Linked DNA regions of Homo sapiens: region 2 is linked to region 1. A link means that fine-mapping ties the variant in region 1 to the expression of a gene that starts in the linked region. Tissue or cell type: monocytes after Pam3CSK4. Region 1 holds a variant in brackets; the other region holds the start of a gene. All regions are shown on one strand. Distances are from middle to middle.

The links. PIP is the estimated chance that this variant, and not a neighbour inherited with it, causes the effect.
Region 2: STK10 starts here. The variant in region 1 is fine-mapped to the expression of STK10 in monocytes after Pam3CSK4 (Quach 2016, PIP 0.95).

The regions. Positions count from the first base shown.
Region 1 is chr5:172,626,186-172,631,385 of GRCh38, reverse strand. The region is part of intron 1 of LOC107986478 (a long non-coding RNA gene); the gene reads right to left. Among named protein-coding and RNA genes, the nearest start is that of NEURL1B, 12 kb to the left of the region's middle. RefSeq lists enhancers at 337-837, 4,482-5,136. The variant T/GTGTT (reference allele first, on the strand shown) is at 2,342.
Region 2 is chr5:172,185,856-172,190,984 of GRCh38, reverse strand. STK10 (serine/threonine kinase 10) reads left to right here and starts at 2,761. Exons shown (of 19, transcript NM_005990.4): 1 at 2,761-3,098. The coding sequence starts at 2,943. RefSeq lists enhancers at 2,001-2,776, 3,829-3,908, 4,569-4,618, 4,889-4,938 and silencers at 2,449-2,808, 3,109-3,158, 3,289-3,368.

The DNA.
Region 1 (5,200 bases):
GTGTAAAATGATAATCTCTGGCCCCCTGCCACTCCTGTTTGCTTTGCTACCACCGGCATCTTAACTGGGTGACACCCCAGGAGGGCTCTCTGAAACTGCCTCCCATGACTGCTGCTGGAGCGCCTGTTCTGTGCAGCACCTAGCTTCAGACGCTGGGGACCATGGGATGAGCAGCCACTCCCACTCAGCCACCAGCAAGGACTGCCCATCACAGCCCAGCTGGTGTCAGGACGCTGCTCTGAGAAAATCAGTCAGTCGAGGTGAAGTGGGAAGAACTCCAGGCTTGGGCCAGCCAGGAGTGGGTGACAGGGACAGAGACTTCTTCCTTCCCCAAGCAAATTCATGCAGCAGACAGCCCATCTGTGGGAACCCAGCACCTGGGAGCACTTTCGAGTTCACAGAGCCATTCCCCTTTTGTGGCCTCTTTTCAGATTTATGGGACCCTCTTTGCCCGTTTCACTGATGAAGAAACTGCAGCTCGGAGAGGTGAAGGCTTTGCCCTTTGGCTAAGCAGCTGGGACAGAGTGGACTCAGGCCCGTCCTCCACCTCACTCCTCGCCTGCAGAAGGAAGAGATTCCTTAGGCCAAGAGGAAGAAGCCCACGAGAGGAGGTGCGAGTGTCTCAAGGAGCCAACGGGATCCTCCATTTGCCTGTGGTGTCAGGGCAGGGTCCTGAAGCCTGAGGGTCCAGGGTTGAGTCCCAGCTTGGGCACTTACCAGGTGTGACCTTGGGCTGGTCACGTGACCTGTCTGTGCTGCAGGTTCTGTATCTGTAGAATGAGTCAAATAACAGAAACTAGCTGAGGGGGCCATGAGCATTAAATGAGTTAATAAGGCTTCAGCATTTACACAAGTGTCTGGCAATAGTAAATCCTCAAGAAACAGGTGCCCCATGACAGCCACAGTTGCAGGTTCGAACTCCCGCTGTTAAACTCCTCATAGGCTTCTGCTCACATTCTTCAAGTCTGGAATCCACTTCTAGGAACCTGTCCTGAGGATGTAATCCCAGATAGATAGGGACAAAGCTAATTGATGGCCAGAGACGCTCACTGTACACCACGTACACCTGAATAAAGTCACAAACACTTCCTACCACAGGGCAGTGGCTTAGTAAACAGGCAAGCCACTCAATACAATCACAGAGCTCCTGGCTGTGATATTCCCAAAGGGTTTAGAGTCGCAGGGAGAAGGCTGTTTTAATGTTAAGTGAGAAAGGCTGAACACAGAACTCTAAACTCAGGGTGATTTCAAGCTTGTAAAAAGAAAATAAGCAAACATAAAATGTGTATAGAAACAAGGTGAAAGGCAACATAGCAAAACATGGCCAGTGATGATCTCTGAGGAACAGGAATATGGGTGATTTTTTTCCACCTTTTTCTACCTATTGGCCAATTTCTAAATATTCTGTAATGAGTATGTATAAAACTTTTTTTCTTTTTTGAGATAGGCAGAGTCTCACTGTGTCACCTAAGCTGGGGTGCAGTGCTGCAATCATGGGTCACTGCAGCCTTAAGCTCCTGGGCTCAAGCAATCCTCCTATCTCAGCCTCCCAAGTAGCTGGGACCACAGGCGTGCATCACCATGCCCAGCTAATTTTTTCTTTTTTTTTTTTAAGAGACAAGGCCTCACTATGTTACCCTGGCTGCTCTCAAACTCCTGAGCTCAAGTGATCCTCCCACAGTCCTGGGATTACAGGTGTGAGCCACAACACCTGACCAAAACTTTTCTAATGGGAGAGAACTCAATAGACTACTTTTGAAATAATACAGTTTTATACAGTGAGCTGAAACAGACTTGTCCTTAGCATGTTGGCATGGATTGGATTGTCAGTTTTCTAGTAATGAGTTGAACACTGGGGGCTGAGCCTGTGACCGACAGTGTTCACTTCAGTACATGTTTATTAGGGGCCCCAGCTCTGGGCTAGCCTCTGATTGGGCAGGGGAAGAAGGGCCAGGGGCAGGGCCCAGACATAGGTACAGTTTGAAGTCCCTTTGATACCAGGCCAGCTGGAGGTACAGAGAAAACATCCTGGAAACATTGCTGGATGGAGGCTGTCTTCGTGATTTTCCATATTCAAATGTTGCCGGTACTATCATTCACTTAATAGATTTTTAAAAATTGGTTCACCTAAAAAATACTCAGAAAACTATAGATTATTATTAAGAGGAAGCAAAAAATGCTAAAATAAATGAATAGATATATCATATTCATGGTGGGACCACTCAATATTTTAAATAAGTCAATTCTCTGCAAACTGACTTATAGATTCAACACATACACCTCTAATCAAAATCCTAACAGGGGTGTGTGTGTGTGTGTGTGTGTGTGTGTGTGTGTGTGT[T/GTGTT]TAACTTGGAAAACAAATTCTAGTTTTCAAAAAAATGTATGTAGAAACCCAAAGGGTAAAGGATAACCAATTTTTGAAAAGGAAGAACTTTTAGCCAGAAGAGTTGATAGCTCTTCTGGCTATCAAAACCTATTATAAAGCGATGGTAAATAAGTGCAGTGTTGGTACAAGGATAGACAAATAGATCTATCTATGGGATAGAATAAAAAAGTCAGACATAAATGGATGCATGTTTTATGACAAATGTGACACTGCCAAGTATTGGGAGAGAGGCCAAGCTTTTCAATGACCAGTGCTGGGTGAATTGGCCATCCATATGGAAAAAAATGGAGCTTGATCCCGACCTCAAACCATTCATGACATCAATTTCAGGGGAATTGTAGACATACATGTTAAAGACAAAATGTAAAACTTCTAGAAAGTAGAGAACGGCTTTATGCCTTCAGAGCAGTAGACAGATTCTTCAACACGGCACAGGAAGTGGTGGCCATACCAAAAGGATTGATGAAATCAACTCCATTGAAATTTAAATTCTTTCTGTCAAAAGACATTCAAAGGAGAGTGAAAAGGCAGGTTACAGAGTGGGGAAAGATACTTTGCCCACATACAACTACAAGAGAGCCTACTTTTTCCCCCAGAATAAACACAACTAAAAATATGACAAAAACTAACAACTCAATATAAAATGAGCAAAACCAGGTACTTCACAACAAGAATGTTCCAATAGCCAATAAATATATAAAAGATACTGAATCTTGTCAATAACCAGGAAAACTAAAATTAAAGTCGCAATGAAATAACCACAGCACCCCAACTAGATTGGCTGAGATTTAAAATTTTCACAATACCAAGAGTTGACAGAAATGTGAAGAAATTTTGACAATACCAAGAGTTGACAGGAATTCTTCTACCTGGCTGATGGGAGTGTAAAATGGTACAACCACTTTAGAAAAGTATTTGGCAGTATCTATCATAGTTAAACATACTTCTACCCCCATGATCCAGCAATTCCTCTCCTGGGCATAGGCCAAACAGAAATGCTTACTTATGTGAACCTAAAGACCTGCTGATGAATGCATCATAGCTTTCATCAAATGCTATTCAAAATGGCCCCAAACTGAGAACAACCCAAATGTCCATCCACTATAGACTGGATCAATAAGTTAGGAGACCCTTACAAAGTGGAATACTATGCCGTAATGAGAAAAAACAAAATACAGCTACACACAGCGACCCGAGTGATTCACACACATAATGTTCTGTGAAAGAAGCCAGACACAAAAGAATGCATACTACGGGACTCCACTTACATGATGTTCAAAGCCCAGCGTGTGTAGGTGATAAAACTCAAAAGAAAAGCAAGAAATGCCTATCGTAAAATGCAGGACGGTGATTGCCTTTGAACAAGAGGGAGGAGTAGTGATTAGCAGTGGCCCAAGGCTGGGTTCTGGGGAGCTAGAAATGTTCTATTTCTTCACTTGATGATTGCTTTTTGATCAATTATTGAACTGCACATTTTAGTTTTCACGTGAGTTTTATCCGTACACAATGGGCCCTCTCTCTGTGTGTGGAATTTCACAATAAGAAGTTTAAAAGAACGTCTTCCAGGGCACTAAATGGAAGGCAATTTGCATCCAGGTGCTAAGGAAGCATCCCCAGGCAGGAGAGCAAGACAGCATCATGAGAAAGCCAGAAGGATGAAGCCTCGTTCCATCCAGGTGCCAAATGCCCTGTCCGTCTTAGACTTAGAAATAAAATTCAGAAGAGAGAGGTGATGCAGACATGCATATTAGCATGTTTGCAGATTAGAAAATGAACTCATATAGTTCCTGCCTGAAAGTCAGCCTGACCTGGCTGCATGGTGCGGTGGAGAGCAGTGGCTTTGCCGCTCAGTGTGCATGGAAGAGTTTTCAGGCAAATAAGTGAGCGGAATCCACAGCTCCAAGGTTTTGGTGAGATTTTATTTAAAGCGCATGTTCAGCATACAGCACGCTAGAAATTACCTTTGCAACTATTTACATTTAGGATAAAACATTCAGATGCCAACTAAAAGCGTTTGTGTGGGGGACGTGGTTTTCAAAATTCTCTTAGGGGCTATGTGAACCCCAAATACGAAGAGCACTTTCTTTTCTTTTCTTTCTTTTTTTTTTTTTTGAGACAGAGTCTCACACTGCCACCCAGGTTGGAGTGCAATGGCACGCTCTTGGCTCACTGCAACCTCTGCCTCCCAGGTTCAAGCTATTCTCCTGCCTCAGCCTCCTGAGTAGCTGGGAATACAGGCACCCACCACCACCCCCGGCTCATTTTTGTATTATTAATAGAGATGGGGTTTTTCCATGTTGCCCAGGCTGGTCTCAAACTCCTGACCGCAGGTGATCCACCCTCCTCAGCCTCCCAAAGTGCTGGGATTACAGGCGTGAGCCACCGCGCCAGGCCAGAAGAGCTCTTTCTTAACAGGGGTGTGAGTAGACTCTGACAAGTGACGACAAGCGGGAAGGGCACTCATGGGGGAGGAACAGCACAGGCAAAGGCCTGGGAGCCAAGCTGTGTGCTGCGCTGAGGATTTGTGGAGGAAGAAGGGCAGGTGTCTGGTCTGTAAGGAGCCCTGAGGGCCTCAGTGGGGGAGCAGGAAGAGGCTCAGGAGAGGGAGGAGGAGCCCAGTGGAGTCAGCAAGAGGAGAAGGAGAGAGGCCGGAGCCTTTGGAGGAACAGGTGGCTGAGCAGGTGTGGAAGAAGAAAGCAAAGAAAGGGGCTTCTCTGATCCCCTGTTGTGTGTGGCCACAGCTCTTGAAAAGACCCCACAAAGCAGGCCCCTATCCTAACAGCTGCCTTGAAAGGGCCTTGTGCCCACCCATCTGCC
Region 2 (5,129 bases), 440 kb after region 1:
TTACTAGTTTATTTAGGTTTTTATTTCTTATTGAAATTATCTTTTACCTATCATTTATATTTTCTTCTCAATAATTACCCATTTTATGTAAATTAAAACATTTATTCACATAAATTTGTCTAAAATATCACTTTATGATTATCAAAATTTCTACAGTATCTAATCTGATGTTCTCTTTTCATTTTTTATTTCTTCCAGTGAATATTTCTTTCTTGCACCAATTTTTTTTTTTTCTTTTCTTTTTTTTTTTGAGACGGAGTCTTGCTCTGTTGCTCAGGCTAGATGGAGTGCAATGGTACGATCTCGGCTCACTGCAACCTCCATCTTCTGGGTTCAAGTGATTCTTCTGCCTCAGCCTCCCAAGTAGCTTGGGTTACAGGCGTGCACCACCCCGCCCGGCTAAGTTTTGTATTTTTCGTAGAGCTGGGGTTTTGCCATGTTGGCCAGGCTGGTCTTGAACTCCTAACCTCAGGTGATCCACCCAGCTTGGCCTCCCAAAATGCTGGGATTACAGGTGTGAGCCACCGTGCCCGACCCTTTTTTTCTTTTTCTTTGACTAGTCTTGTCTATTAGTTATTTCAAAGAAGTAGCTTTGATTCTATTGAACCTCAATGTATTTCTTACAATGCTATTGAGGTATAATTTACACATAAAATTCATCCATTTACAAAAATGAAAGTTTAAAATTCAATTATTTTTGGCAAATTTACCAAATTATGAAATTGTCACCATTGTGCAGTTTTAGGACATTTTCATCACCCCAATTAGACTGTTTATTGTTCATGTACAGTTAATTCCCATTTCACACCCAGCTCCAGGCAACCATTAATCTACTTTCTGTCTGTATGGATTTGCCTTTTCCAGACATTTCATATAAATGGAAATTTATAGAACACAGGGCCTTTTGTGTCTGGCTTCTTTGACTTAGTGTTATTGAATGAATGAACCTCTCCGTTTTTCTTTCCCTTCCTTCCTCCCTCCCTCCCTTCCTTCCTTCCCTCCCTCCCTCCCTCTTTCTCTCTCCTTCTCTTCCTTTCCTTTTTCTTTCTCTCTTTCTTCCTTTCCTTTCCCTTTCTCTTTCTTTCTTTCTCTCTTTCTCTCTTTCCTTTCTCTCTTTCTTCCTTTCCTTTCCCTTTCTCTTTCTTTCTTTCTCTCTTTCTCTCTTTCCTTTCTCTCTCTCTTTCTCTCGCTTGCTTGCTTTTCTGGAGCTCTCAGAGCTGGTCAGAGCCCTCCAGGCCTACAGCTTTCGTGGAGTCAGAGCCTTCATCTCCTAGTATGGAAGCAACCCTCTTGGTCTCCCCACCCGCTTCGTACAGTTGGCCAAATGGTCTGAAACAAATGAAAGACCTGCCTTTCAGCATGTTTTGGGAGGTTCAGACAGCGCCTGACTCAATGAGAACGGTCAGCGACGAGCGGCGTTTCCTTCTTTTAAAGACCCTCTACAATTCCAGGCACTCCTGCAGCTGTGGAAACATTCCGAACGGCTTAGCAACCAGGACACCCTCTGCGCCGACCACTACCAGCATCGCAGGCTTCTTGAGCTGGCTTTCCCAGTGGAAAACCATGCTTGGTGTTTGCACACTGTTCAAAGGATGTTTTCGAACAAAGCACCGAGGAAGGGGCGAAAACACCTCAACACAGCCGTTCTCTGGGGTTGGAGCTATTGAACTGTGACATTTGCGAAGACTCAACTTGTTTATGACACGGTCCAAATAATAACCCTTGCAGACTGCCCGCCCCCCCCCCCCACCCCCAGCACTCTCCTTAGATTCAGGTAAAAGCATGTTATAACCGTCTATAGGACAAACAGGCAACAGTAGCAGTGAAGTGACTCAAGTAGCCAGGATCGAGAATGAAGGTGCTCAAAGAAGACTTTAGTTTGATCTGTATGTAGTGCGCTCATCTTTTTTGAAACTAGGAAATTAAAAATTAGAATAAAGTTTTTATTTAATATGCAAATACATCCGCAAACCCATCAGGAAACATAAGAGAAATCAGTGCCAAAGGAGCTCTTTCTCCCAGCCCTCTAATCCTGGCAGGTTTGTGGATCGTGGACGGGGAGCCCCTGGAAAGGACCGCGCCGGGAAGCCGGGCCCTGCAGGGACTGGCCGCGGCTGCACCGGCGTTGCCCGTCGCACACTAGGAGGCAGCACCGCGCCGAGGAACCCGCAGCAGACGGGCAGCCAGCGTGTGTGCCTGGGGCGAGTGCCCTCGCCTGCCGGCGTCCCCATCGGAAAAGTGGGGGCGAGGGCAGCCTAGCGGAATAGCTGCGGGAGGATTAAATGAACGAGTGCAGGTTCACCTTCTGGGCGCTGACAACGATCCGTGGGCTCTCGCGAAATGCCAAGTCGCCGTCCCGCTTGCTCCCATAAAAGTTTTGGGAGCCACGCGGCGCGGCGGGCGGGCTCCTGAGTCCATGAGCGGTCCCACCGAGCGGTCCCCGAAGCTTCCCCAAAGCCCAGCCCGCGGCTCGCGGAGCGTGGTGTGGGGGGACTACAGTTTCCAGAGTGCCCTGCGGCGACGGGCGGAGCCGGGGAGCGCCCGCAGCCAATTAGGGGGTCCCGGGGCTCTGCCGGGGAGCGGCGGGTGGAGCCGGGCCGGTGGGCGGGCGCGGGGACGGTCCCCTGGAACGGGTCCGAGGCTCTCGCAGGCAGGGCTGGGCCGGGCAGGAGCTGCGAGGCCGGCACAAGGGAGGCGGCCCTGGGGACCTGACAGGGCGGGGGCGGGGGCGGGCACGCCGCCGCCTGCGCGGTTCCGGGTGCTCCCGGCGCGGCGCTGCCCAGGGCACACTTGACCGAGGTCGGGCTGCGGGGAAAGGCGGGTCTGGGGAGAACCCCGAGAGACGCGGCGTCCTCCAACTCCTCCTCCTTCTCCTCGCGGCCGCCGAAGCCACAGCCCGAGCCCGAGCCCGAGCCCGAGCCGGCGCCACCGCGCCCCCGGCCATGGCTTTTGCCAATTTCCGCCGCATCCTGCGCCTGTCTACCTTCGAGAAGAGAAAGTCCCGCGAATATGAGCACGTCCGCCGCGACCTGGACCCCAACGAGGTGTGGGAGATCGTGGGCGAGCTGGGCGACGGCGCCTTCGGCAAGGTTTACAAGGTGAGGGCGCTGAGGTGGGTGGCCGGACGCGCGTCGAGGGGCTCCGGAAGGAAGGGATGCCTGAGCCGGACCCGGCCAGCCTGGCTCCGGCTCCGAGGGCTGCCCGGCGCTGAATTCGGGGTCCCTGGCCCTCATCCCGATGACTCTTGTTTTTTGGGGGGAACATCACTCGGCCCGGCCGAGTCCCTGCGCTCTGGGCGCCCCCTCCGGGCACGGTTGCCGCCCCCACCCTAGCCCTGTTTCGGAGCACTTCCTGTGTGTCCTGCACTGCGCTCGGCGCCGCACGGGGAGACAAAGGGGCGTTGACAGGACCTCAGCATCCGAGAGGGCCACTCGAGGGACCTTCCAGGGACGTTCCGTAAAACGGCGATACGGGCACACTTTTTTTTTTAAGAGAGACCACAGATGCTGTGGGAATATCGAGGCGATGTGGACCGAGAAACTCGGCTGCGCTTGGACGGGTTGGGAGCTAGGGACACATCTGAAGATGAGCCAGAGACAGGGAAGTGGGGTGGGCGAGGGGTGGCCCATGGACTGAGAGGTGGGGCTTGGAAAGGTGGGTTGGGGCTGGTCAGAGGGGGAGGTCAGGATCTGGTGAATGCTGAGCCTGGGGGAACAGATTTGATTCCGTCGGTCTGAGTCACAGCTGGGGAGTCTCCCAGCCTGCAGTCACCTCTCCCCTAGAGGAAGACGCGGCAGAGAGCTTTTGTGGAGTGGGTGGGGCAGAGCTGATTGAGTCTAGAGAAGTGTGGCAGCAGGACGTTGGTTTCTGCTCCTGGGAGCTAATTCTGAGGTGGTGAGTTGTTTTAGGGAGCCAACACCTACAGCTTGACTCCCCCCTTTCCCCTAAGAAAATTTTTACTGGGAGACGCCCACTTGTTAAATTGGTGTATACCTCCAGGAGAGCACCTCTCTTCTAAGCCACTATCCTCCTCCTTGGGGCTCCTGTAGCTTGTAGGGCACTCTGACCCTAGGATTGCCGTTCTATGAGGCTGGACCACAGAGAAGGCTTCTCCAGGCCTTCTCCTCTGACTTGGAAGTGGTCTATCGCCTAGTTACCGAAGTAGTTCCTAGATGACCGGTGTTATAATAGCATCATTTGGGAGCTTGTCAGAAGTGAACAATCTCATGCCCAGCCCCGACCTGCTGAATTAGAGTCTACGTTTTAATAAGATCCCAGGTGATTCCTAAGCAAATAGGTTTGAGAAGTACTGCCCTAGAGGCTTGGAGTGGTGGCGTTTTTTCTTTTTTCTTTTCTTTTTTTTGAGACAGGGTTTCCCTCTGTTGCTCAGTCTGGAGTGCAGTGGCCCGATCTCGGCTCACTGCAACCTCTGCCTCCTGGGCTCAAGCAATTCTCCTGCCTCAGCCTTCGGAGTAGCTAGGTCTACAGGTGCACACCACAGCCCGGCTAATTTTTGTATTTTTTGTAGACTTGGGGTTTCGCCACGTAGCCCAGGCTTGTCATGAACTCCTGAGCTCATGAAATCAGCTCGTTTCAGCCTCCCAAAGTGTTGGGATTACAGCGGTGAGCCACCCTGCCTGACCTGGAGCGGTGGCAATTTTGAGACCAACCAGGCCCACTCAGTGTCTTTTTTTATTTTTATTTTTTGTGAGACGGAGTCTCACTCTATTGCCCAAGCTGGAGTGCGGTGGTTTGATCTCGGCCCTCACTGCAACCTCCACTTCCTGGGTTCAAGCAATTCTCCTACCTCAGCCTCCCAAGTAGCTGGGATTGCAGGCACACACCACCATGCCTGGCTAATTTTTGTTTTTTTAGTAGAGACGGGGTTTCACCATGTTGTCTAAGCTGGTCTCGAACTCCTGACCTCAGTTGATCCACCCACCTCGGCCTCCCAAAGTGTTGGGATTACAGGCGTGAGCCACTGTGCCTGGCCTGGTGCCTGTTTTGTTTCCTTGCCACCTCCCCTCTGAGCCCACACTTCCTGTTATGGGGTAGGGAGAGGTCTTGTGATCCGAGAGGCAGTGCTTTTGGACTGCCCCGACTTGCTGTCCTCCTTTGCCTGAGGGCCT